Regions from separate parts of the Homo sapiens genome. Here region 1 is linked to region 2. The links come from fine-mapping of genetic effects on gene expression. A gene starts in region 2. The other region holds a variant in brackets. All regions are shown on one strand. Distances are between the middles of the regions. Region 1 overlaps LOC644215 (a long non-coding RNA gene). Region 2 holds the start of EXOSC1 (exosome component 1).

Region 1 (12,287 bases), 29 kb before region 2:
TGCTGAGATTATAGGCGTGAGCCATCGTGCCGGCCTGCACTGCTCTTAAAACTGTCTGCAAGGCTCCTGTGGAGGTAACAGAGCTGCCACACCCAAAGTTCTGTGGCCATGCGGAGCAGTAAAACCAGTTTTAGGTCAGCAAGTTGTAATCTGTTATGACACTGGGCAGGAAGAAAGGGAAATTGAGGCTTAGCCTCTTGCCTCAAACAAAGAGGAAGCAGAGGTCTGGGTGTTTAACCTAGAGCTCAAGGTCAGGGCATTTTGACCAACCCGTTGTTGTTGCAGCTGCTCCGGACGGTTTTCCTAACTGCTGGAGCTGTGTTGAAGCCCAGGCTTTGGACTTAGGAAGCCTGGGTTTGGAGCCACATCCCAGCTGCGTGAGCCGGGGCAGGCGGCTGAGCTCTGTGAGCCACAGTCTTCTCATCTGAAAATGGGGCTGCTGTTATGAGGCTAAAATGAGATAATGCATGTGAAATCCTTAGCCCAGTGCCTGGCACAGCACTGCTGCAGGGGTCAAGTGTCCCTCAGCTCCTGGGGCATTACAATTCCATTTGATGCTGGGTGTGGTGGCTCACGCCTGTAATCCCAACACTTTGGGAGGCCAAAGTGGGAGGATCGCTTGAGCCCAGAAGTTCAAGACCAGCCTGTGCATCATGGAGAAACCCCAACTCTACAAAAAACACAAAAATAGCCAGGCATGGTGATGTACGCCTACAGTCGCAGCTACTCGGGAGGCTGAGGTGCAGGAGGTCAAGTCCGCAGTGAGCCATGATTGTGCCACTGCACTCCAGCCTGGGTGACAGAGTGAGACCTTGTCTCAAAAAAAAAAAAAAAAAAAAAAAAAAAATCCAAAAGCCAAAAAGAGCTTGCTTTCTAGAATAACTCTTGGGGAAAGAGCCTGGTGTGCTGGAGAGGAAGCATGTCCCCTCCTAGGCTGAGGAAGACTGGAATCTGGGCATGGCAGGGGACTCTGCTCAATGGGGAGGACTGTTCTCTCTCCACTTACCCCAAAATTAAACCGTTCCCCATTTACCACTTCAAATTCTTCATTCTTCTCAGGGCCTCTATATCAGTAAGGAATTGTGTTCAGTTGCTATAAGAGACTGCTACAGTGGCTTAAACAGGCAAGGGTTAATTCTCTCACATTCAAGAAATGGAAATCAGGAGGTAATGGGCAGTCCAGGCTGCTATGGCAGTTCCACAGAATCTTCAGGATCCTGGGATCCCTCTCTTTTTCTGCTTCAACCTCCATAACGTATGACTTCCATTTTCACTGTCACCTTGTGCTCCACAGATGGGCTGCAGGAGCTCCAGCTGTCACACTCATGATCCAGGTGGAGGCCTAGTGTAGGAAGGAAAGGAGGAAGAGCCAAAAGGTGCACCTTCCAGCTAAGTCAGTTCCACTTGATTGACTAGAATTTAGTAATTTGGCCAAATTTAGCTGCAGAAGGGGCTGGGAAATTTAGTCTTTTAGTTGGGTAAGTTGCAGCTCACCCCCTGTGCCTATTGAGAGAAAGGAAGAATTGATATTGGGGAGGCAACTAGCAGCCTCTGGATCTCAGCTGGGTGTTAGGAGGACTGGTTCTAATTAATTTAACCCAGTTACATACTCAAAAGTTATTTCTTGATCACCTATTATGTGCAAGGTACTATGCTAAGCACACATATGAAAGTATTTAAAGAAGCTTATGGGCCGGGCACCTGACCAGCCTGACCAACATGGTGAAACCCCATCTCCACTAAAAATACAAAATAAGCTAGGCATAGTGGCATATGCCTGTAGTCCCAGCTACTTGGGAGGCTGAGGCAGGAGAATCACTTGAACCCGGGAGGCTGAGGTTGCAGTGAGTCGAGATCACGCCATTGCACTCCAGCCTGGGCAACAAGAGTGAAACTCCATCTAAAAAGACTCTTGGCCGGGTGCGGTGACTCATGCCTGTAATCCCAGCACTTTGGGAGGCTGAGGCGGGTGGATCACCTGAGGTCAGGAGTTCAAGACCAGCCTGGCCAACATGGTGAAACCCTGTATCTACTAAAAATACAAAAATTAGCTGGGCATGGTGGCGCACACCTGTAATCCCAGCTACACGGGAGGCTGAGGCAGGAGAATCATTTGAACCTGGGAGGCGGAGATGGTAATGAGCTGAGATTGTGCCACTGAACTTCGGCCTGGGCAACAGAGCAAAACTCCGTCTCAAAAAAAAAATAAATAAATAATAAAAGAAAAAGACTCTTGCTCTGCCTTAAGAAACCTACAGGGGATAGGGCTGGGCGCGGTGGCTCACACCTGTAATCCCAGCACTTTGGGAGGCTGAGGCGGGTGGATCACAAGGTCAGGAGATCAAGACCATCCTGACTAACATGGTGAAACTCTGTCTCTACTAAAAATACAAAAAATTAGCCTGGCGTGGTGGCGGGCACCTGTAGTCCCAGCTAGTCGGGAGGCTGAGGCAGGAGAATGGAGTGAACCTGGGAGGCGGAGCTTGCAGTGTGCCGAGATGGCACCACTGCACTCCAGCCTGGGCAACAGAGCGAGACTCCGTCAAAAAAAGAAAAAAAAAAAAGAAGCCTACAGGGGATAATTAGCCAGGCATGGTGGCACACGCCTGTAATCCCAGCTACTTGGGAGGCTGAGGCATGAGAATTGCTTGAACCTGGGAGGTGGAGGTTGCAGTGAGCCAAGATCGCGCCACTGCACTCCAGCCTGGGCAACAGCAAGATACTCTGTCTCAAAAAAAAAAAAAAAAAAAAAAAGAAAGTAACCTATGGGGGAATGGTGAAAAGACAAGCACAAAACTCTTCGGTTTTCTTATTTGTACATTGAAGATGTTGTACCCAGAGCTCTCTAAAGCCCCTGGTAACTTTATTGTTCACTGATGCTCAATTAATAGAATTGCATTTTGCTTCTCTGCCTCCCTCATCTGACCATCTGACTGTGAAACCCCTGATTACAGGAACCATGTCTGGTCTACTCTGGCGCCATCAGAGCCTACCACAGTGTGTGGCTCAATACATCTGCTTGCCAAGTGAACACATGACTTATGCAGAGCTCAGCAAGGGGCACAAGAGAGGTTCAGATAACGCTCTTAGGGTGTCTAAGAGGGGCTGTCCAAGGTATATCTTTTATGTCTGTCAACCAGACTGGAATGCAGTAGTCATGCAAGCTGGAATGCGATCACGGTTCACTGCAGCCTTGACCTCCTGAGCTCAAGCAATCCTCCCACTTTAGCCTCCCAAGTAGCTGGAACTACAGGCATATGCCACCATGCCCAGCTAATTTTTAAATTTTTTGCAGAGACAAGGTCTCCTTATGTTGCCCAGACTGGTCTCAATATTCTGGGCTCAAGCAATCCTCCTGCCTCAGCCTCCCAAAGTGTTGGGATTATAGGCGTGAGCTATCTTGCCTGGACAATAATTTTTGAAGGTTGCAATCAAGGAAAATAACAGAAATGTTGGTCCATCATTTATCCAACCACTATACCATCCTGCCAAGTAGATTGGGCATTGTGGCAGAGAAGAGGAGAGGAAAATAGCATTTAATGGATGTATCCTTTGTGTCAGGGGCTCTCTGTGGTAATAAGAACTATCATTTATTAGCCTCTATAGACCTGGCACTTCACATGTGTGATCCTACTGAGTCCTCGCAACCACTGTATAGGGTAGGTGCTATTATTATGCACATTTTATTTTATTATTATTATTTTTTATTTATTTTTGGGACTGAGTCTTGCTCTGTCGTCCAGGCTGGAGTGCAGTGGCATGATCTTGGCTCATTGCAACCTCCACCTCCCTGGTTCAAGCAATTCCCCTGCCTCAGCCTCCTGAGTAGCTGGGATCACAGGCACATGCCGCCACATCTGGCTAATTTTTTTGTATTTTTAGTAGAGATCGGGTTTCACCACGTTGGCCAGACTGGTCTCAAACTCCTGACCTCAGGCAATCTGCCTGCCTCGGTCTCCCAAAGTGCTAGGATTACAGGGGTGAGCCACCGCGCCTGGCCTATTATTATTTTTTCTTTTTTTCTTTTTTTAATTAGAGACAGGGTCTCACTATGTTATCCAGTCTGGTGTCTAACTCCTGGCCTCACATGATCCTCCTGCCTTCGCCTCCCAAAGTTCTGGGATTACAGTCACGGGCCACTGCACCTGGCCTATTATCCACATTTTAAAATGGGGAAACCAAAGCTAGGGAAAGATTCCCAATAGCATTAAGTGGGGAGTTATAATTGTAATTTACTCCTCTCCCAATTCCTGTTCTTTATAACCATTTGGTTACCAAGCAATGAAAGCAGCCTAGCTCTCACATCTAGAGTTCACAGGCTGGTTGGGGTGGCAGTAAACAATCCCTGTGGCAATCAGTGCCATCATCCAGGTATGGTCAGGAGCTATGGGAGTCCAGAGCCTGGCAGACTATAGTCATGTCTGAGAGGCGAGTCAGGGCCAATTTTCAGGTGAGGTGACGTTGGAGCTGAGTGCT[A/G]CAGCATGAGCTAGAGTTGACCAGGAAGCTGAGGGTGGCTGTTCAGGCCAAGCAAGGCCACAGCAGCTACAAAGGCACAGGGGCAAGTAAGAACACGATGTGTTTGCTCTAGATGCAGGCAAGACCTGAGTCACTGATGTGTCGGAAACTGCTGCATCAGTACAGGAAAGAAACCATAAGGGTTGAAACTAAGAATGTGGCAGCGGGGGCAAAGAGGGAAGGACAGATTGGAGAAGGTATCGGGGAGGTAGAATGACACGTGAAGGCTAGCGGTTATGAGGGGTGAGCACGGTTGCCGTGTACAGTTGTGAAGTATGTGGACTGCTTAGTTTCCCAGATGAGGGGTCTGAAATCCAGTCTTCATTGGTGCCTTGTAGAGAAGAAGAGTTGGCCTTTTATTTTATTTTATTTTATTTTATTTATTTATTTTTTTTTAGGCGGAGTCTAGCTCTGTAGCCCAGGCTGGAGTGCAGTAGCACAGTTTCAACTCACTGCAGCCTCTGCCTCCCAGGCTCAAGCAATTCTCCTGCCTCAGCCTCCCAAGTAGCTGGGATTATAGGTGCCCGCCCCCACGCCCAGCTAATTTTAGTATTTTAGTAGAGACAGGGTTTCACTATGTTGGGCAGGCTGGTCTCCAACTCCTGACCTCAGGTGATCTGCCCACCTCGGCCTCTTAAAGTGCTGGGATTACAGGCGTGAGCCACCACGCCTGGAGTTGGCCTTTTTCTCATTCCCCAGTGACACCATAGAGGCATATGATGCGTACAGGTATACGAGGCTCAGAGGCATGGAGGCAATGACACCACAGAGGAAGTGAGAATCAATCGCTCCCAGGAAGGCAAGATTCCAGAATACGAGTGTGTCTAAAGAAAAGACCATCTCTCAACATCTGAACCAAAAAGCTGCATTTACTACAGTACTTACTTAAGGGAGGTGGAGCTGGGCCTGTTAGGTGCAATCCCTGTGAGTGGAGCAGGGCACTGATCTTATATAAGGTGCTAGGAGGTTGAAGATCAATGGTGGGCACATATCAAGGGAGGTAGTGTTTAGGGATTGGTTGGCCAACCAGTGTGGCTGTTACCGATTGGCTGGTGTCAGATGTCTGGTCACTGAGGAAAATTGTTCAGCTGAAGGGAGAGGAATTGTCTTTAAGTGGCTTAAAACTGGTTATGGTGGTGACTTGTTGCCATGGCAGCAGAACAGTCTTTCCTGTGGGTATGAGCTTTTTTTTCCCCCTCAAGTGACTGTAGCTCAAAACATTCACTCTCAGAGGTTGTTTTCTTTTATAAAGGACCATGTTGGCTCTGGGGAGGGAAGTTCACAGGCTGGCTAGGGTCAGAATACTTGCCTGGCCCAGGTATTCAAAGGTCCAGTTTGTCACCTCTCCAAGATCCTGTGGCTGAGGTGTTTCCAACACAGGGAATCAGGGAAGTTAGTTGCATTGTAAGGAACATACCTAATCAGAAATGGGACCTAGGGCTGGGTGCAGTGGCTCACACCTGTGATCCCAGCACTTTGGGAGGTCAAAGCAGGAGGATCCCCTGAACCTAGGAGCTTCAGACCAGCCTGGCCAACATAGTGAGACCCCATTTCTTAAAAAAATAAAAAAGCCCGGGCGCGGTGGCTCACGCCTGTAATCCAAGCACTTTGGGAGGCCGAGGCTGGTGGATCATCTGAGGTCAGGAGTTCGAGAGCAGCCTGACCAACATGGTGAAACCCTGTCTCTACTAAAAATACAAAAAATTAGCTGAGCATGATGGCGGGTGCCTATAATCCCAACTACTCGGGAGGCTGAGAAAGGAGAATCCTTTCAACCCGGGAGGCAGAGGTTGCAGTGAGCCGAGATCGTGCCACTGCACTCTAGCCTGGGTGTTACAGAGCAAGACTGTCTAAAAAAAAAAAAATTAGCGGGGTGTGATGGCACATGTTTGTAGTCTCAGCTACTTGGGAGACTGAGATGGGAGGATTGAGCTCAAGAGTTTGAGCTCAGGCTGCGGTGAGTCATGATCACACCACTGCACTCCCACCCACAAGACACAGTGAGACCTTATCTCAAAAAAAAAAAAAAAAAATCAGAAATGAGACCTAGGATCCCGGACTCCCAGTCACTTCTTCCGTAAAGGAGAAGATGAGGTGCTGGTGGGCAGTGTGGTGCAGCTGGCCAGACCTTACAGCCAGCTTTTGCCCCTGCCTTCTCCACAGAAGCCTCTCCTTGGTCTCTCCTTTATGTCTCTCCTTGGGCTTAGTGGGAACCACATGTGTTTGCCCAACCACAACCCTAAGAACCATCCCTGGAGCTGCCATGGGAGGTTCTGAGCTCTGTCAGGACTAGGGTAAAAGCAGACGGATGCTTTTCTGCAGCTCAGTGGCCACTTAGATCCACCAGAGCTACCCGCCCACTTCACTCCCATTGAGCAAAGGCTTCTGGTAGGTAGGCTCGGGTGGGTTTGTTTTTTAAAATAATTGTTTAAAACTTTTGGTCAGGTGCGGTGGCTCATGCCTATAATCCCAGTACTTTGAGAGGCCGAGGTGGGTGGATCAACTAAGGTCAGGAGTTCAAGACCAGCCTGGCCAACATGGTGAAACCCTGTCTCTACTAAAAATACAAAAATTAGCTAGGCATGGTGGCACAAATTTGTAATCCCAGCTACTCGGGAGGCTGAGGCAGGAGAATCACTTGAACCCAGGAGGTGGAGGTTGCAGTGAGCTGAGATCGTGACACCGTACTCCAGCCTGGGTGACAGAGTGAGACTCTGTCTCAATAAAATAAAATAAAAAATAAAGTGTACAATTCAGTGGTTTTTGGTATCTTCACAGATGTGTGCAACATCACCACAGTCAACTTTAAAACATTTTTTGGCACCTCAAAAAGAAACCCCACACCCTGTATTTATCACCCCCAACCCTGCCAGCCCCTGGCAATCACTAATCTACTTTCTGTCTCTATAGATTTGCCTATTCTGGACATTTCATATAAGTAAAATCATAAACCATGCAGTCTTTTGTAACTGGCTTCTTTGGCTCAGCATAATGTTTTCTTTTCTTTTTCTTTTTTTTTCTTTTTTGAGATGGAGTCTCGCACTCTCGCCCAGGCTGGAGTGCAGTGGCGTGATCTCGGCTCACTGCAAGCTCCGCCTCCCAGGTTCACGCCATTCTCCTGCCTCAGCCTCCCAAGTAGCTGGGACTACAGGCGCCCGCCACCACACCTGGCTAATTTTTGTATTTTTAGTAGAGAAAGGGTTTCACCATGTTAGCCAGGATGGACTCGATCTCCTGACCTTGTGATCCGCTCACCTCGGCCTCCCAAAGTGCTGGGATTACAGGCGTGAGCTACCGCGCCTGGCCTATCTTTTTCTTTTCTTTTTTTTTTTTTTTTAGAAACAGGGTCTCACTGTGTTGCCCAGACTGGTCTTGAACTCCTGGACTCAAGTGATCCACCTGCCTCAGCCTCCCAAAGTGCTAAGATTACAGGCATAAGCCACCATACCCAGGGAAGAGAGCTGATTGGCTGAGGGCCCCTCCTAGCATTCAGATGCTGTGCTGCCCATGGGCTGCATCCAGTCATGACTTAGCATCCCTGTATCAAGGATGTGAAGGCAGGCTGGTCCTGGGAGCCTGAGGACCCCTCTGAAGAAGGGTAACTTCGGCTGGAGTAGCCCCCAACAGGCTTGCTGAATTTTCCCCAGAATTGCATTTGCAATCTAAGACGACGCTGCCACCCACCAAACCTTCCTTCCTCCTTCCCTTACGCAGCATCACACCTGTGCTCCCAGCCCCATTTCCTGTCACAGACACTTCTAATATATTTCCTGCACATCCTGTCTTGGCAACTGCTTCTAGGAGATCCTGGACTGAAGGGGTGGGTTGCCTCTTCACACCTGTGGGTGTTTCTCGTTAGGTGGACTTGGAAAAGAAAGAGACACAGAGACAAAGTATAGAGAAAGAAATAAGGGGGCCCAGGGGACCAGCGTTCAGCATATGGAGGATCCCGCCGGCCTCTGAGTTCCCTTAGTATTTATTGATCATTCTTGGGTGTTTCTCGGAGAGGGGGACGTGGCAGGGTCATAGGATAATTGTGGAGAGGTCAGCAGACAAACACCTGAACAAAGGTCTCTGCATCATAGACAAGGTAAAGAATTAAGTGCTGTGGTTTAGATATGCATACACATAAACATCTCAATGCCTTAAAGAGCAGTATTGCTGCCCGCATGTCCCATCTCCAGCCCTAAGGCGGTTTCCCCCTAAGTAGATGGAACATACAATCAGGTTTTATACCGAGACATTCCATTGCCCAGGGACGGGAAGGAGACAGATGCCTTCCTCTTGTCTCAACTGCAAAGAGGCGTTCCTTCTTCTTACACTAATCCTCCTCAGCACAGACCCTTTACGGGTGTCGGGCTGGGGGACGGTCAGGTCTTTCCCTTCCCACGAGGCCATATTTCAGACTATCACATGGGGAGAAACCTTGGACAATACCTGGCTTTCCTAGGCAGAGGTCCCTGCAGCCTTCCGCAGTGTTTGTGTCCCTGGGTACTTGATTCATTTTTTTTTTTTTTTTTTGAGAGGGAGTTTTGCTCTGTCGCCCAGGCTGGAGTGCAATGACGTGATCTCTGCTCACTGCAAGCTCCGCCTCCCAGGTTCACGCCATTCTCCTGCCTCAGCCTCCCGAGTAGCTGGGACTACAGGCGTGCGCCACCTCGCCCGGCTAATTTTTTGTATTTTTAGTAGAGACGGGGTTTCACCGTGTTTGCCAGGATGGTCTTGATCTCCTGACCTCGTGATCTGCCTGCCTTGGCCTCCCAAAGTGCTGGGATTACAGGCGTGAGCCACCGTGCCTGGCCTGTCCCTGGGTACTTGAGATTAGGGAGTGGTGGTGACTCTTAACGAGCATGCTGCCTTCAAGCATCTGTTTAACAAAGCACATCTTGCACAGCCCTTAATCCATTTAACCCTGAGTTGACACAGCACATGTTTCAGAGAGCACGGGGTTGGGGGTAAGGTTACAGATTAACAGCATCTCAAGGCAGAAGAATTTTTCTTAGTACAAAACAAAATGGAGTCTCCTATGTCTACTTCTTTCTACACAGACACAGCAACAATCTGATCTCTCTTTCTTTTCCCCACACTGGACTAACACACTGCTAATCTCCCAACAATTCACTAAACTTGATGCAAATCAATCCCAAATAACTAAGTTTCTGCCAGCTTTTTTTTTTAAATTTTTTTAGAGACAGGGTCTCACTTTATTGCCCAGGCTGGAGTACAGTGGCTATTCACACGTGTGATCATAGCATATTGCAGCCTCAAACTCCTGGCCTCAAGCCATCCTCCTGCTTTAGCCTCCTGAGTAGCTGGGACTACAGGCACGTGCCTCCTGTGCCCAGGACGTCAGCTTGTTTTGAATGTACAATTTTGAGGTCAGGCTCAGTGGCTCACACAGTGCTTTGGAAGGCCAAGGCAGGAGGATCGCTTGAGGTCAGGAGTTTAAAACTGGCTTGTGCAACCCAGGGAGACCTTGTCTCAAAAAAAAAAATGTGATCCAAGATTAATATAGACTGAGAAATCAGTTTTATGTGAATGAAAGCAGAAGGGTCAAAATGTGCTTATTGCCCTGGTTTGAGCATTTTACCATTACAGTTTTCACACAGGGTCTAGTGGCAGAGGGCTTGACGCACACCAGGTGGTTTTGAGAGTGCCATAAATTTAAAAAAGAAAGAGGCTTGGACTAAAGCCTGGCCTTAGAAGTCTGACAATGCGGGCGGATCAGGGAAACCTGGGTGCTGTCAGGGAAGTTCTTTTTTTTTTTTTTTTTTGAGACGGAGTCTCGCTCTGTCACCCAGGCTGGAGTGCAGTGGCGCGATCTCGGCTCACTGCAAGCTCCGCCTCCTGGGTTCACGCCATTCTCCTGCCTCAGCCTCCTGAGTAGCTGGGACTACAGGCGCCCGCCACTACGCCTGGCTAATTTTTGTATTTTTAGTAGAGATGGGGTTTCACTGTGTTAGCCAGGATGGTCTCGATCTCCTGACCTCATGATCTGCCCGCCTCGGCCTCCCAAAGTGCTGGGATTACAGGCGTGAGCCACAGCGCCTGGCCTGGGAAGTCCTTGAGGAAGCCGCAGGCTGCCGGAGAGCCCTCCTCTTTCTTTTCCGGCAGCACCAGCTCCAGCTCTGTTTACCTGCAGATGGCGACTGCATTTCGGGCGGGGGCAGTCAAAGTCCCTGAAGCACTGCTTTCTCTCCTAGAACCTGAGTCTTGAGGCATCATCTGGGCTCATGCCCTCTCTGAAACATAAATCCTGTACTCCACAGACACCAGCTGAGCCGGGAGATCTGAACATCAGGCAATGAGTTTGCAAGATGGTTTAACAACTATGAACATGTGGTGTCCTCACAGGAATCCTGTGGGCTGAACAGCAGCCGCCCCTCCTTCCACCCAGCACAAAACTTGGTTTGCCCCGCTCACTCTAAATCTGGGCCTTCAATGAATGTTCAGTGGAGTTCTTCTGTGGAAAAAAATAAATGGGAAAGGAAGGCTGGAGAGGCCTTTATTAGCCTAAGGGGCAGTGGAGGGTAAAAGGGCTGTGACTCTTGGTTGGCTTCTTCTTTTTCTTTATTGTTTTTTGTTTTGTTTTGTTTTGTTTTTTCTGGTAGCTTCTTTATCTCAGTGTTTTTTCTTTTTCTTTTCTTTTTTTTTTGAGACAGGGTCTCACTCTGTCACCCAAACTGGAGTGCAGCAGTGCAATCATAACTTAGCGGGGCTCAAGCAATCCTCCCACCTCAGCCTCCCTAGTGGCTGGGACTACAGGTGTGCACCACCACACCCGGCTAATTTTTGTATCTTATTGTAGACACAGGTTTTCGCCACGTTGCCCAGGCTGGTCTCAAACTCCTGGGCTCAACTGATCCCCTTGCCAGGGCTTCTCAAAGTGCTGGGATCATAGGCATGAGCCGCCATGCCTAACCCTTATCTGAGTTTTTGTAACAGTTTGACCAACAAGCTTGTTGTTGGAAAGCTGTAAGAGTCCTGGAAATTTCCCTGGGGCCTGAGGAATCAAACACTGCTCTACAAGGGGAGGCTTTCTGTCCTGAGAGTTCAGGCTTTAGGGGCTGGCTGGAGGCCTCAGGCAGAGATGAAGGCCCAGTTATGATTTCCTTCACTGGAGTCCATCATTAATGAGCGCCTTGGCTGGGGGGATGCCTGCTAAGAGGGCATGGAGTACAGATCCTCCACTGACACCCCCACACTCCTAGCAGCAAGCAGGACTTAGTGGCCCCACTTACTCCCTACAGGGTAGGAAAAGACGGCAGTGCCCTGGTGAGGAGCTGTATAGGGGGTCCTTCAGGATGCTTGCTGGGAGGGGTGGGGAGGGCACAGGACGTGCTGGGACCCCACTGGGATCTAAGCCCCTCCCAGCTGATTTATTCTTAGGATCTGTAATGCTCGCCTGCATGTGCCCCGAACTTCAGAAGGCCCAAGAATCAACCCTGACAAATGTCTTTTTGTCCTGTATTCAGTAGAGATAAGATTAAAAAAAAAAATTAGTAGAGGGCAAAAAACAGTGGTTTACTCTCTTTACTGGCATTCAAGAAACTTCTTCGGTTTGATAGGCTTTAAGCTTCTTCCCAGATTCAAAATGCTGTGATTGGCACTAAATGGATCCCTATCTCTGCCCAGGAATTCCGGCTTCTGGCTGCAAAGCCTTTGGGGTCCTTGCAATGGGGCAGGTATAACTTCCCATATTCTCTTCCTCAATCTTCCTTTCCTGCCCCTCCCTCTCTATTTTTTTTTTTTTTTTTTTTTTTTTGAGACAA
Region 2 (12,287 bases):
ATAGCCATACTGCTTCCCAGATAAGGGAAACCAGGAAAAACAATGGATTTATCCCAAACCATAGATCCAGGGAAAGTAAGGATGTGGAAACAAGGCCATCTCACCTGACTCACTGTGGGCTACCACCACTCCCAGCTCGTTCTCGGCGGTGGTTAGCAGGTAGTTGGACTGTGCATCACCTAAGGAGATCTAGTCACATAACACCGGTGAAGGAAAATGAGGAGTTAGAAGTCTTCCCCCACCTTAGCCACCTGAGTTGTTTTTCTACCTTTTTTTTTTTCTGAGATGGAGTCTTGCTCCGTTAACCAGGCTGGAGTGCGGTGGCGTGATATCAGTTCACAACCTCTGCCTCACAGGTTCAAGCGGTTCTCCTGCCTCAGCTTCCCGAATAGCTGGGATTACAGGCATGTGCCACCACGCCCAGCTAATTTTTGTATTTTTAGTAGAGACAGGGTTTCACCATGTTGTCCAGGCTGGTCTCGAACTCCTGACCTCAGGTGATCCACCCGCCCTGGCCTCCGAAAGTGCTGGGATTACAGGCATGAGCCACCACACCCGGCCTCCTTCTCTTCTTTTGACAAAGGACCAGAAGTCTGCTGGGAATAAAGGATACCACTTTGGCCAAGACAATGTCACCTGGGCGGAAACTCTTATAAATTTCAACCTGTAAAGAAAGAACAGGAATGTTAAGTGAAAGCTCTAGACTGGGTCTATATGAAACTGTGAACGCTTCTGGTAAAGCCAATCTACTTTCTAATCCTGGAGGGTAGAAATCATCATTACTCATGTCAAGTCAAGAACTTTTAATTGCTTCTACAGTATTATCATACAAATGAAAATTTTTTTTTTTTGAGATGGAGTCTCGCTCTGTCGCCCACACTGGAGTGCAGTGGTGCGATCTCGGCTCACTGCAACCTCTGCCTCCCGGGTTCAAGCGATTCTCCTGCCTCAGCCTCCTGAGTAGCTGGGATTATAGGTGCATGGCACGACACAGGCTAGTTTTTATATTTTTAGTAGAGACGGGGTTTCACCATGTTGGTCAGGCTGGTCTTGAACTCCTGACCTTGTGATCCGCCCACCTTGGCCTCCCAAAGAGCTGGGATTACAGGTGTGATCCACTGCACCCGGCCCTTTTTTCTTTTTTTTTAAGAGGTGGGATCCCACTGTGTCACCCAGGCTGGAGTGCAGTGATGCAATGGTAGCTCACTGCAGCCTTGGACTGCTGGACCAAGGGATCCTCCTGCCTCAGCCTCCCAAGTAGCTAGGACTACAGGTGCGTGCCACCACTTAACCTCAAACTCCTGGGCTCAAGCAATCCTCCAGCCACATCCTCTCAAGCAGCTGGGACTACAGGCATGAGCTACCATGCCTGGCCAATTTTTGAATTTTTAAAATTTTTGTAGAGACAGGGTCTCGCTATGTTGCCAGGGCTGGTCTTGAAGTCCTGGACTCAAGTGATCCTCCCGCCTCAGCCTCCCAAAGTACTGGGATTACGGGTGTGTGTGACCATGCCTGGCCTGAGATAATACTTTTAAGGGATTGAGATACGTAAAGCCATTAAAAAAAAAGAACCAACCAACAACCTTGTCTTTTTCAGTTGCTCGGACATCTTCCTTGCTATAAAAAAAGAATTAACAGAAAGATTAATTACCTGTGAGAAAGAATTTTTTTTTTTTTTTTTTTTGAGACAGAGTCTCCCTCTGTCACCCAGGCTGGAGTACAGTGGCGCAATTTTGCTCACTGCAACCTCCGCCTCCTGGGTTCAAGCAATTCTCGTGCCTCAGCCTCTCAAGCAGCTGGAATTACAGGCACGTCCGCCATGCCCAGCTAGTTTTTTGTATTTTTAGTAGAGATGGGGTTTCACCATGTTGGCCAGGCTGGTCTTGAACTCCTGACCTCAGGTGATCCACCCGCCTCAGCTTCCCAAAGTGCTGGGATTACAGGCATGAGTCACCTTGCCCAGCCTGTGAGAAAGAATTATTCTGTAGATTCCTAGTAAATAAAGAGCTACAAGAACAGACAGAACAAGTTGTAAATGGGACACAGCTGCTACCCAGAGGAGCAGGGTGGAGAAGCATCCTCAGACCACATGGAGAGGCAGTATCAATACCTCTGATTAGATAAAGGCAGATCGGATTTGGCAAGAAAGGATAAGGAATTTCGTTGCCTCAGGGCTTGAACAGAAGCACTATAGCAAGGGCCCCCAACTTCTGGTGGCCTGTGAGGAACCGGGCTGCATAGAAGGAAGTGAGTGGCAGGCAAGCTTCATCTGTATTTACAGCTGCTTCCCAATCGCATACATTACTGCCTGAGCTCCGCCTCCTGTCAGATCGAAGTGGGCATTAGATTCTCATAGAAGTATGAACCCTATTGTGAACTGCACATATGAGGGAGCTAGGCTGCCCACTCCTTATGAGAATCTAATGCCTGATGATCTGTCACTGTCTCCCATCACCCCCAGATGGGACCATCGAATTGCAGGGAAACAAACTCAGGGCTCCCGCTGATTCTATATTATGGTGAGCTGTATAATTATTTCATTATATATTACAGTGTAATAATAACAGAAATAAAGTGCACCATAAATGTAATGCACTTGAATCATTCTGCAACCACCCCCTCCATGGTCTGTGGAAAAACTGTCTTCCAAGAAACTGGTCCCTGGTGCCAAAAAGGTTGGGGACTGCTGCACTACAGAACCACATCAAATCCTGAGGCTGGAAAGGGCCTCAAAAGTTAGATTATCTGCCTGGCAAGAAATGTTTGTCCTTTCTCAAGGAAGCCACACGAAATCACCATCTCACCCACAAATCTTTTCAATGTTTTATAACCTCTGAGTTCAATCTATATTAAATTTTAAAGTGCTTCCTAAAATGCCTTCTACTTTTTTTTTTTTTTTTTTTGAGACGGAGTTTCACTCTTGTTGCCCAGGCTGGAGTACAATGGCACGATCTTGGCTCACCGCAAGCTCCGCCTCCCAGGTTCAAGTGATTCTCCTGCCTCAGCCTCCCTAGTAGCTGGGATTATAGGCATGTGCCACCACGCCTGGCTAATTTTGTATTTTTAGTAGAGACGGTGTTTCTCCATGTTGGTCAGGCTGGTCTCGAACTCCCGACCTCAGGTGATCCGCCCGCCTCGGCCTCCCAAAGTGCTGGGATTACAGGCATGAGCCACCACGCCCAGCCTGCCTTCTACTTTGGTTTGAGTCATCCTGACACTGCTAAACTTCAGCTTCACTCAATTCTTTTTGCTTTACCTTTTATTTATTTATTTGTTTTTTGAGACAGGGTCTCACTCTGTTGCCCAGGCTAGAGTGCAGTGGTGCAATCTCAGCTCACTGCAACCTCTGCCTCCTAGGCTCAAGTGATCTTCCTGCTTCAGCTCCACAAGTAGCTGGGAGTACAGGCACGCACCACCATGCCCAGCTAATTTTTTTTTTTTTTTTTTTTAAAGACAGAGTCTCGCTCTGTCCCCCAGGCTGGAGTGCAATGGCGCAATCTTGGCTCACTGCAACCTCTGCCTCCTGGGTTCAAGCGATTCTTTGGCTTCAGCCTCCTGAGCAGCTGGGATTACAGGCACACGCCAACATGTCCGGCTAGTTTTTGTATTTTTAGTAGAGACAGGGTTTCACCACACTGGCCAGGCTGGTCTCAAACCCCTGACTTTGTGATCCACCCACCTCAGCCTCCCAAAGTGATAGGATTACAGGTGTGAGCCACTGTGCCTGGCTAATTTTTGTATTTTTTACAGAGATGGGGTTTCACCATGTTGGCTAGGCTGGTCTCAAACTCCTGATCTCAAGAGATCCACCCGCCTCAGCTTCTCAAAGTGCTAGGATAACAGGCGTGAGCCACCGCGCCCAGCCTTTGCTTTACTTTTAAACCCTCTCGTTAATATTTTCCTTTTGTCCTAGATCATCCATGTATTTTTTGGATACTACTAGGGGAGAATCAAAGCACAAAGAAGAAAGAAAAACGGGCAAAAGAAAAATAGGAATTGTAACTGTTGCTCAAAATTCTGGTGTCCTAGTCTATCCTAATCTTATTCCAGTTGCTAAGGTATATGTGAAAAGGATACTTCTTACCGGATAGTTCCTCGAAAAGAGTTCTTAAGAGGCATGGACCCCACATACAGGATGTGTACTTTGGCAAAGCGTGAATTGATGCTAGAGACCTGCGGAATAGAGAAAAGATCAGCATCAGAGTATAAGCAGTTGTCAGCTCAAGGAGGCAGCAATAAACTGGGGATTACTAGGGCTTCAGTGCAAGCAACCCTACTAAGTAGAGAATTTAAGACAAATTAACTCCTACTTCTCTCTGCGTAAGTGACACATGTAAAGAGGAATAAGAGCCACTCTGGCCACCTGGTAGAGTTACTATGGGAAACAAAGGTGGTATGGGTTTTTTTTTTTTTTTTTTTTTGAGACGGAGTTTCACTCTTGTTGCCCAGGCTGGAGTGCAATGGCGCGATCTTGGCTCACCGCAACCTCCGCCTCCTGGGTTCAAATAATTCTCCTGCCTTAGCCTCCTGAATAGCTGGGATTACAGGCATGCACCACCATGCCCAGCTAATTTTGTATTTCTAGTAGAGACAGGGTTTCTCCATGTTGGTCAGGCTGGTCTCGAACTCCTGATCTCAGGTGATTCGCCTGCTTCAGCCTCCCAAAGTGCTGGGATTACAGGTGTAAGCCACTGCATCCGGCTGGGTTTTTTTTTTTTTTTTTAAATCTTTTCACAACTTGCCCTTCAGAGAGGTATAGACTTTTTAAAGTATAGATGGCTAACAATTAAAAAAAAAAAAAAAAAAGAGGCTGGACACAGTGGCTCATGCCTGTAATCCCAGCACTTTGGGAGGCTGAGGTGGGCGCATCACTTGAGGTCAGGAGTTCAGGACCAGCCTGGCCAACATGGTAAAACCCCACCTGTACTAAAAATACAAAAATTAGCCAGGCGTGGCAGCACATGCCTATAATCCCAGCTACTCGGGAGGCAGAGGCAGTAGAATTGCTTGAACCCAAGAGGCCAGAGGCTGCAGTGAGCCGAGATCGTGCCACTGCACTCCAGCCTGGGTGACAGAGCAAGGCCCTGTCTCAAAAAAAAAAAAACAGGAATGGCAAAAAATAAAGTCTTTTGCTTCTCTGCAGAAAAAGAACTCAGCTTCAGATGTTCAAAAATAGGCCTCCTAATCATCCTCTGGCATCCCTGTTTCCCAGACACAGGTAGAACTATGTATTCAGGGAATCAGCTCAGTGAAGGAACTATGCATGCCTGAACTTGGCTGCCTTGATTATTATCCTAGAAATCTGTAAGCCTGCACAGTCCAGTAAAACTTTCTGTGATGACAGAAAAGTCATGTGCTGACCAGTATAGCAACCACTAGCCACAAGTGGCTATTGAGTACTTGAAATGTGGCTAATGTGACTAAGGAAATCAATTTTATTTTTTTCTTGAGAGACAGAGTCTTGCCCTGTTACCCAAGCTGGAGTGATCATGGCTCACTGCAGCCTCAACCCCCTGGGCCCAAGCGATCTTCCTGCTTCAGCCTCCCAAGTAGTTGGGACCACAAGCATGTGCTACCATGCCTGGCTAATTTTTTATTCTTCTTCTTCTTTTTTTTTGAGACGGAGTCTCACTCTGTTGCCCAGGCTGGACTGCTGTGACGCAGGCTCACTGCAACCTCCACCTCCTGGGTTCAAGCACTTCTCCTGCCTCAGCCTCCCGAGTAGCTGGGATTACAGGCATGCACCACCACGCTAAGCTAATTTTTGTATTTTTGGTAGAGACAGGGTTTCACCATGTTGGCCATGATTGGCCAGGCTGGTCTTGAACTCCTGACCACAGGTGATCTGCCCACCTCGGCCTCCCAAAGTGCTGGGATTACAAGCATGAGCCACCATGCCCGGCAATTTTTGATTCTTTTTGTAGAGATGAGGTTTCACTATGTTTCCCAGGCTGGTCTTGAACTCTGGGCTGAAGCAATCCTCCTGCCTCGGCCTCTTAAAGTGCTAGAATTACCAGTGTGAGCCACTGTGCCCTGCCAGAAATAAATTTATGTAGCTTGTGGCTATCATACTGGACACTGCAGTTCTGGTATGGTCATGATTTCAGTATTGAATGGGCATTCTAAGCATGGAGGTCAGGACCAACTTACCTTACAGGTTACAATAGCTCCCACATCTGGCAGTAACTGGGACTCTGTTTCTCTCACTACAGACACCACTGGAAGCTACAGAGGGAACAACAAAAAACTGAAATGTCCTGACTAACCCTTGGGTCAAGGCATTTGTGGCTTGAGAGTAATATAGGAATGTCTTGGTATAAAGGTGAGAGTTGGAGTATGGATTCATTTATAGCCCAGAGCAGAAGGCCTTAGAAATTTTAGGAAATAGGAGGACCAGGAGGCTACAGAATGCTGCTAGAAGACATACATCTCTAAACTTCTTTTTTTGTTGTTGGAGACGGAGTCTTGCTCTGTCGCCTAGACTGGAGTGCAGTGGCACGATCTCGGCTCACTGCAAGGTCCACTTCCCGGGTTCACGCCATTCTCCTGCCTCAGCCTCCCGAGTAGCTGGGACTACAGGCACCCGCCACCATGCCCAGCTACTTTTTTTTGTAGTAAATCTCTAAACTTCTAATAAGTTTTTTGGTGATTCTCTCAGAATTTCTTGGTATACAACTATATTGCCTATAATCATTGACAATTTTACTTTTTTTGTTTTTTTTTGAAATGGAGTTTCACTCTTGTTGCCTAGGATGGAGTGCAAGGGTGCCATCTTGGTTCACTGCAACCTCCACCTCCTGGGTTCAAGTGATTCTCCTGCCTCAGCCTCCCGAGTAGCTGGGATTACAGAAGCCTGTCACCATGCTCGGGTAATTTTTTGTATTTTTAGTAGAGATGGGGTTTCACCATGTTGGCCAGGCTGGTCTCGAACTCCTGACCTCAGGTGATCCACCTGCCTTGGCTTCCCAAAGTGCTGGGATTACAGGTGTGAGCCACTGCGCCCTGCCGACAATTTACTCTTTCCTCCAAAGTTATACTGCTTCCTTCTGTTTCTTATTTTATTGCACAGGCTGAAATTTCCACAAAAATGTTACATAATAGCGGCTATGCTTGTTTTCTTCTATTTTAAGTGAATACTTGCAGAGTTTTCTCTTTGAGCATGGTATTGGCTGTTGGTATAAGACAGATATTTTGAGCCTCATCTTTTATCAATCTCTCCGTTGCTCACAATGCTTCAGCTCTCCTGGCCTTCTTTCAGTTTCCCCAACTTACTAAATTCTTCCCACTTTCAGATCTCTCTTCAACCTATTCTTTCTGCCAGAGCTGCACTCTCTCCACCCACCTGACTCTTACCTACTCTTTAGATGATTCAGCTTAAATGTCACTTCTGCTGACTAGGATGGGTTTGCCTGTTACATGTTCTCAAGGTGCCCTGTAATATTCTTTCAAAGCACCACCACATATGTAACCATATGCTCATTTGAGCATTTATTTGTTTACAATTTGTGTCTGTGTCCTTTGATAGCAGAAACCAAGTCAGCGCTGTGCCTGACACATGAAAATACTCAAGTGATATCTATGAAATGAACAAACTCAGGACTGTTAAGAACATTCCCAACAATGACTGAATAGAAAGCCCCTTGAATCAGACAGCTTAAGTTACTTACTCAAAGCAGAATCAAAGTCAAGTTAGCCAGAACGTAACTGTTCTAATTCTGAATCCTCTTTCTATTGTGCTCCTTCAAATATTGCTTATATGATCCTGAGCTAATCCTGGATCTATCTCTGAAACTAGAAAGGTAGGTATTACTCACACATTCAACATTTATTGAGGAGCTGCCTTGTGCTATATACGGATGGTATGGTGGTAGGGCCTGCTTTCACGGACTTAGATTTAAGCAGGGGAGAAGTCTAGTAGGAAACATATACCTGAGTGTCTCATCATATGCTGACATAGTGCTTGGAAGAAAAGGAACAGAGTTTTTTGTGAGTCTTTAACAAAACAAACAAAAACAAAACACCCCACAAAACTCCTTTCCTCAATTAGTGGGTCCAGAAGGACTTCTCTGAGGTGATAGTAGAGAAGCTATCTAAAGGAGGTAGGAATTAAATAGGCCTAGGAAGATAGAAGCGTTCCAGATAGATGGCATGTTACAAAGGCTCTGTAGCAGGAGAAAGCTTGGCGCATTACCGACACTGAAAGAAGCTAGTATGTTATAAAAAATTTTTAAAGGGCAAGCAGAGACTGTGATTATAACTTTTAAACACAGAAAAGACAGTATGACTAGATTGCGTCAGTGAGGTGGAGATAGTGGCGCTAGATAAAGTCGGAAAGGTAAGCAACATTCATACAGTATGCAACTCACTGCTGGGCTGAGCTGGGCTGGGATGGGATACTGAGTTCGCATCTGCTTTTGTCCCAACTTCCCTCCCCGAGGGTCAGCAGCACAACCAAGCGAGATCAACACAACTAGTGTGTGGTGGCTAAGTGCACCACAGCGGCGATACGGCTAGAAGAAACTAAGAGACCAACATTGTACCACTGAGGCACTAAAGACGCGTCCGCAGTGCCCATGCCTAAGGACTGGAACTCAAGGGCAGCCTAAGGGAAAAACAGAGGGGAGATGGCATGCCGCTTCCTTTACCGCGCCATTCTCGCTGCTCTTCATCAGACAGCCGGCAAGCGACGAAAAGATGTAGCCGTGGCGGGTGTAGGTGCCGCTGCCCGGGCTGCCCTCCTCCAAGTTACACAGACGTTCGCCTGCAGAAAAAATGCTGCATCGGTCACGGGCCCCCAGAAGCTGTAGGCCGTTTAGCCTTCTTGCTTCAGCCCCTATCCAGGACTCTGTACGGGAAGCGCTCACTTACCGGGGATGCAGTATCTCACAGGTGGCGCCATGATTGCCGCTGTCCCAAAACCAGGATGAAAACGAAGTCGATTTCTCATTGGCCAAACCCAGGCACAGTTCCGCAGTAAGACACGTGTCAATTGGTACTCTTTATCCTTGCGAGTAAACTCCATTTCCCAGGTTACCCCGGGACAAATCCGGGGGCGGAACTTCAGAGGTCCACGCTGGCGCCTGCGCGTGTGGTTGAGGATGGGCTGGCGGCGGGTCCGGGTCCGCTGCCTGGCGCTGCGGGCGGCGGGCCATGGTGGTTTGGATTGAGCCGGGCCCGGCCGGGGCGCCGAGTCGGAGGGGGTGGCAGTGAGCGGCGGCAGAGGCTACGGGGCTCGGTTTGGCTGACTGGGGAGTCGGCAGGCGGCAGGTAAGGGCGAAGCCTCGGCCCTTGCTCCCCATCCTAGTCCCTTTTTCTGGGTAGGGCACTGCCCTGGGGCCTTGTCTTGAGTGCGGGTTCCTGCTCTCTCCTCGCCCCGCCCTGCGGGGCCGTGCCCTCCTCAGCCCGAGCGCACCTTCCGAGCAATCGTTACGCTCAGAGCAGGAGGGAAGGAGGTCAAGCGACCCAACTCGTCTGTTTCACAGATATGGAACCTCAGATTCAGAGACAGGGTTTGACTTGTCCAAAATGATCAAGATAGTTAAGATAGAGCCCAAACTGGAACCCACGGTTTTTGACTTCCAGTCCATCGCAGTTTCACCTCGCGGCTGTCATTGAGAAATAAAACCTTTTCCCGGTTTTTTTGTTTTGTTTTTGAGGAGTCTCGCTCTGTCGCCAGGCTGGAGTGCAGTGGAGCGATCTCTGTTCACTGCAACCTCCGCCTCCCGGCATCAAGCGATTCTCCTGCCTCAGCCTCCCGCGCAGCTGGGACTTACAGGCGCGCGCCACCACGCCCAGCTAATTTTTGTAGTTTTAGTAGTGACGGGGTTTCACCATGTTAGCCAGGATGGTCTTGATCTCTTGATCCGCCCGCCTCGGCCTTCCAAAGTGCAGGGAGTACAGGCATGAGCCACTGCCTCCGGCCTTTTCCCGGTTTTTTAAACTGCAGCTTCCAGTCCTGCGGTCCGATCCTCTTCGCGGCCCCTCATCCCCACTTCAGTAAGCTTTCTCTGGTTGAAAAAGCCGAACTCTGGTTGTGTGGGCCCGTCATCAAAAGATAAGCAGCCCCAAAATAAAGTTGTTACTCTTTTTCTTCTCAGCGTGTTAGCCCAGAAGGGAGGTCTGCACATGAATAAAATGCTACTCTTTATTGATGTTGGGTATCTCCTACTTGAGATTGCAAACATCCTGAGAGCAGCGTCTTTGTCCAGATGACATTCGCCACGACTTTGATCTCAGTTCACCTGACTTCTGATGGCTTTGCCGTCTGTCCTTCCCTGTCCCCTCAGTCGACTTTCCCATTGGGAAACAGATGTGACTTAAAGCCATGGGAAGAGGGGAGTGTTGTGGCCAGCAATCTCCTCCAGTCTGGTGGCAGATGACCAGTATGGCCTGTGACTATTACTGAAGGATCAGAGTACTCGGGCTTGTGCTTGGGGTGGTAGTAAAGCTGCGCTTTGCTCTGTTTCCTCCCGTTCACTGAGATTAGCCCCTTCTCCCCTACACACATCTTTTTGAATTTTGCTTTACTTCTATTTCTTGAGATGAAAAGTCTGGGCCAGGTGCGGTGGCTCACGCCTGCAATCCCAGCACTTTGGGAGGCTGAGGCAAGCACATCACCTGAGGTCGGGAGTTTGAGACCAGCCTGACCAACATGGAGAAACCCGGTCTCTACTAAAAAAATACAAAATTAGCCAGGCGTGGTGGCACATGCCTGGAATCCCAGCCACTCAGGAGGCTGAGGCAGGAGAATTGCTTGAACCCAGGAGGCGGAGGTTGTGGTGAGCCCAGATTGTGCCATTGCACTCCAGCCTGGGCAACAAGAGTGAAACTCCATCTCAAAAAAAAAAAAAAAGAAAAGTCTGTGTGTTCAGTTGCGGCCCACTTACTACATATGTAATTTTCCTGGCATCCCATACCCCATTAGCTAATGGAGAGAGGCCCTAGCCTCAGACTTTGTTCACCCAAATCTGTATCTGTGCGTCTAGGAGCTTTCTGTTTACACGGTTGGGCTGATTTCTGGTTGGGCTTGTTTTCAAAAACGACTTCTAGCTCCTAAGTGCCATGATTTTAATAACAGTTTGTATTTCTCTCTTTATGAATCAGGAAGAATGATAACAGCAGACACTTATTTAGTGTTACCACATTGGCAGGAGTGTCCTTGCTGGTATTTGTAGGACAGATAGACATCTGGCCAGGCTTTCCACTTCTGCATCCCTCCAGGTCATTCATTCAACAAATATTTATTGAGTACTTCCATGAGCCGGGTATTGTGCTAAGTGCTTTATAAACATTTCATTTACACTTACCAAAGAAGTTTGCTCTTCATACCTGTGGGTTTCACATTGCTGATCCAATCCAACCATGGATTGGAAATATTTGGGGGCAGCTGGGCATGGTGGTTCGCTCACACCTGTAATCCCAGCACTTTGGGAGGCCAAGGCAGACAGATCACCTGAGGTCAGGAGTTCAAGACCAGCCTGGCCAACATTGCGAAACCCCGTCTCTACTAAAAATACAAACATTTGCTGGGCGAGGTGGCAGGTGCCTGTAATCCCAGCTACTTGGGAGGCTGAGGCAGGGAGAATTGCTTGAACCCAGAAGGCGGAGGTTGCAGTGAGCCGAGATCTTGCCACTGCACTACAGCCTGGGCAACAGAGCGAGACTTCATCTCAAAAACAAACAAAAAAAGTGTTTATGTGTAGCATTTACTTTGTATTAGGTATTATGAGTAATCTAGAAATGATTTAAAGTATATGGGAAGATACGTATAGGTTATATGCAAACACTATGCCATTTTATATCAGATTTGAGCATCCATGGATTTTGGTATCTGAAGGGAGGACTGGAACCAATCCCTCCGCAGATATGGGGGTTGACTGTATCTGTATAGTTACAGAATCATAAAAGGTTAGAGCTGGAAGGGACCTTAGCATTTAATCCTACTCCCTCACTGAATGTGAACACAAGGAGATTGAGTCCCAGTAGAGTTGAATGATTTGTCTGAGGTTACGGAACTGCTTAGGGACAGAATTGAACCCTAAAGAATTGGGTAAATCTGGTCTTTGAGGCAGACATTTCCTGCAGCGCTGAAGAATTTAGGACATGTTTAAGAATGATCTGAAAAGTGGAGAATAGAAGTTTTTTTTTTTTTTAAGACTAGAAGAGGTGTGAGGTAGTATATAATTCGAGTTTATTACAAACAAGGAGTGCATTGGATTTGCATGCCATTGCTACAAAAAGTATTTTGGCAAATAGGAAACTCTCCATGACCTATAGAAAGGGAATGA

The links. PIP is the estimated chance that this variant, and not a neighbour inherited with it, causes the effect. A credible set is the group of variants that fine-mapping cannot tell apart.
Region 1: its variant is the best candidate, but not a certain one, in a credible set for the expression of EXOSC1 in stomach (GTEx, PIP 0.78).

The regions. Positions count from the first base shown.
Region 1 is chr10:97,408,518-97,420,804 of GRCh38, forward strand. It overlaps LOC644215 (a long non-coding RNA gene), which reads right to left. Exons shown (of 2, transcript NR_157582.1): 2 at 10,230-10,978. Among named protein-coding and RNA genes, the nearest start is that of PGAM1, 12 kb to the right of the region's middle. RefSeq lists an enhancer at 10,081-10,130. The variant A/G (reference allele first, on the strand shown) is at 4,477.
Region 2 is chr10:97,437,087-97,449,373 of GRCh38, forward strand. EXOSC1 (exosome component 1) reads right to left here and starts at 8,920. Exons shown (of 8, transcript NM_016046.5): 1 at 8,869-8,920; 2 at 8,646-8,761; 3 at 6,151-6,225; 4 at 4,085-4,173; 5 at 1,584-1,617; 6 at 614-664; 7 at 105-189. The coding sequence starts at 8,899. ZDHHC16 (zDHHC palmitoyltransferase 16) reads left to right here and starts at 9,089. Exons shown (of 12, transcript NM_198046.3): 1 at 9,089-9,267. RefSeq lists enhancers at 8,049-8,629, 8,630-9,209 and a silencer at 9,141-9,350.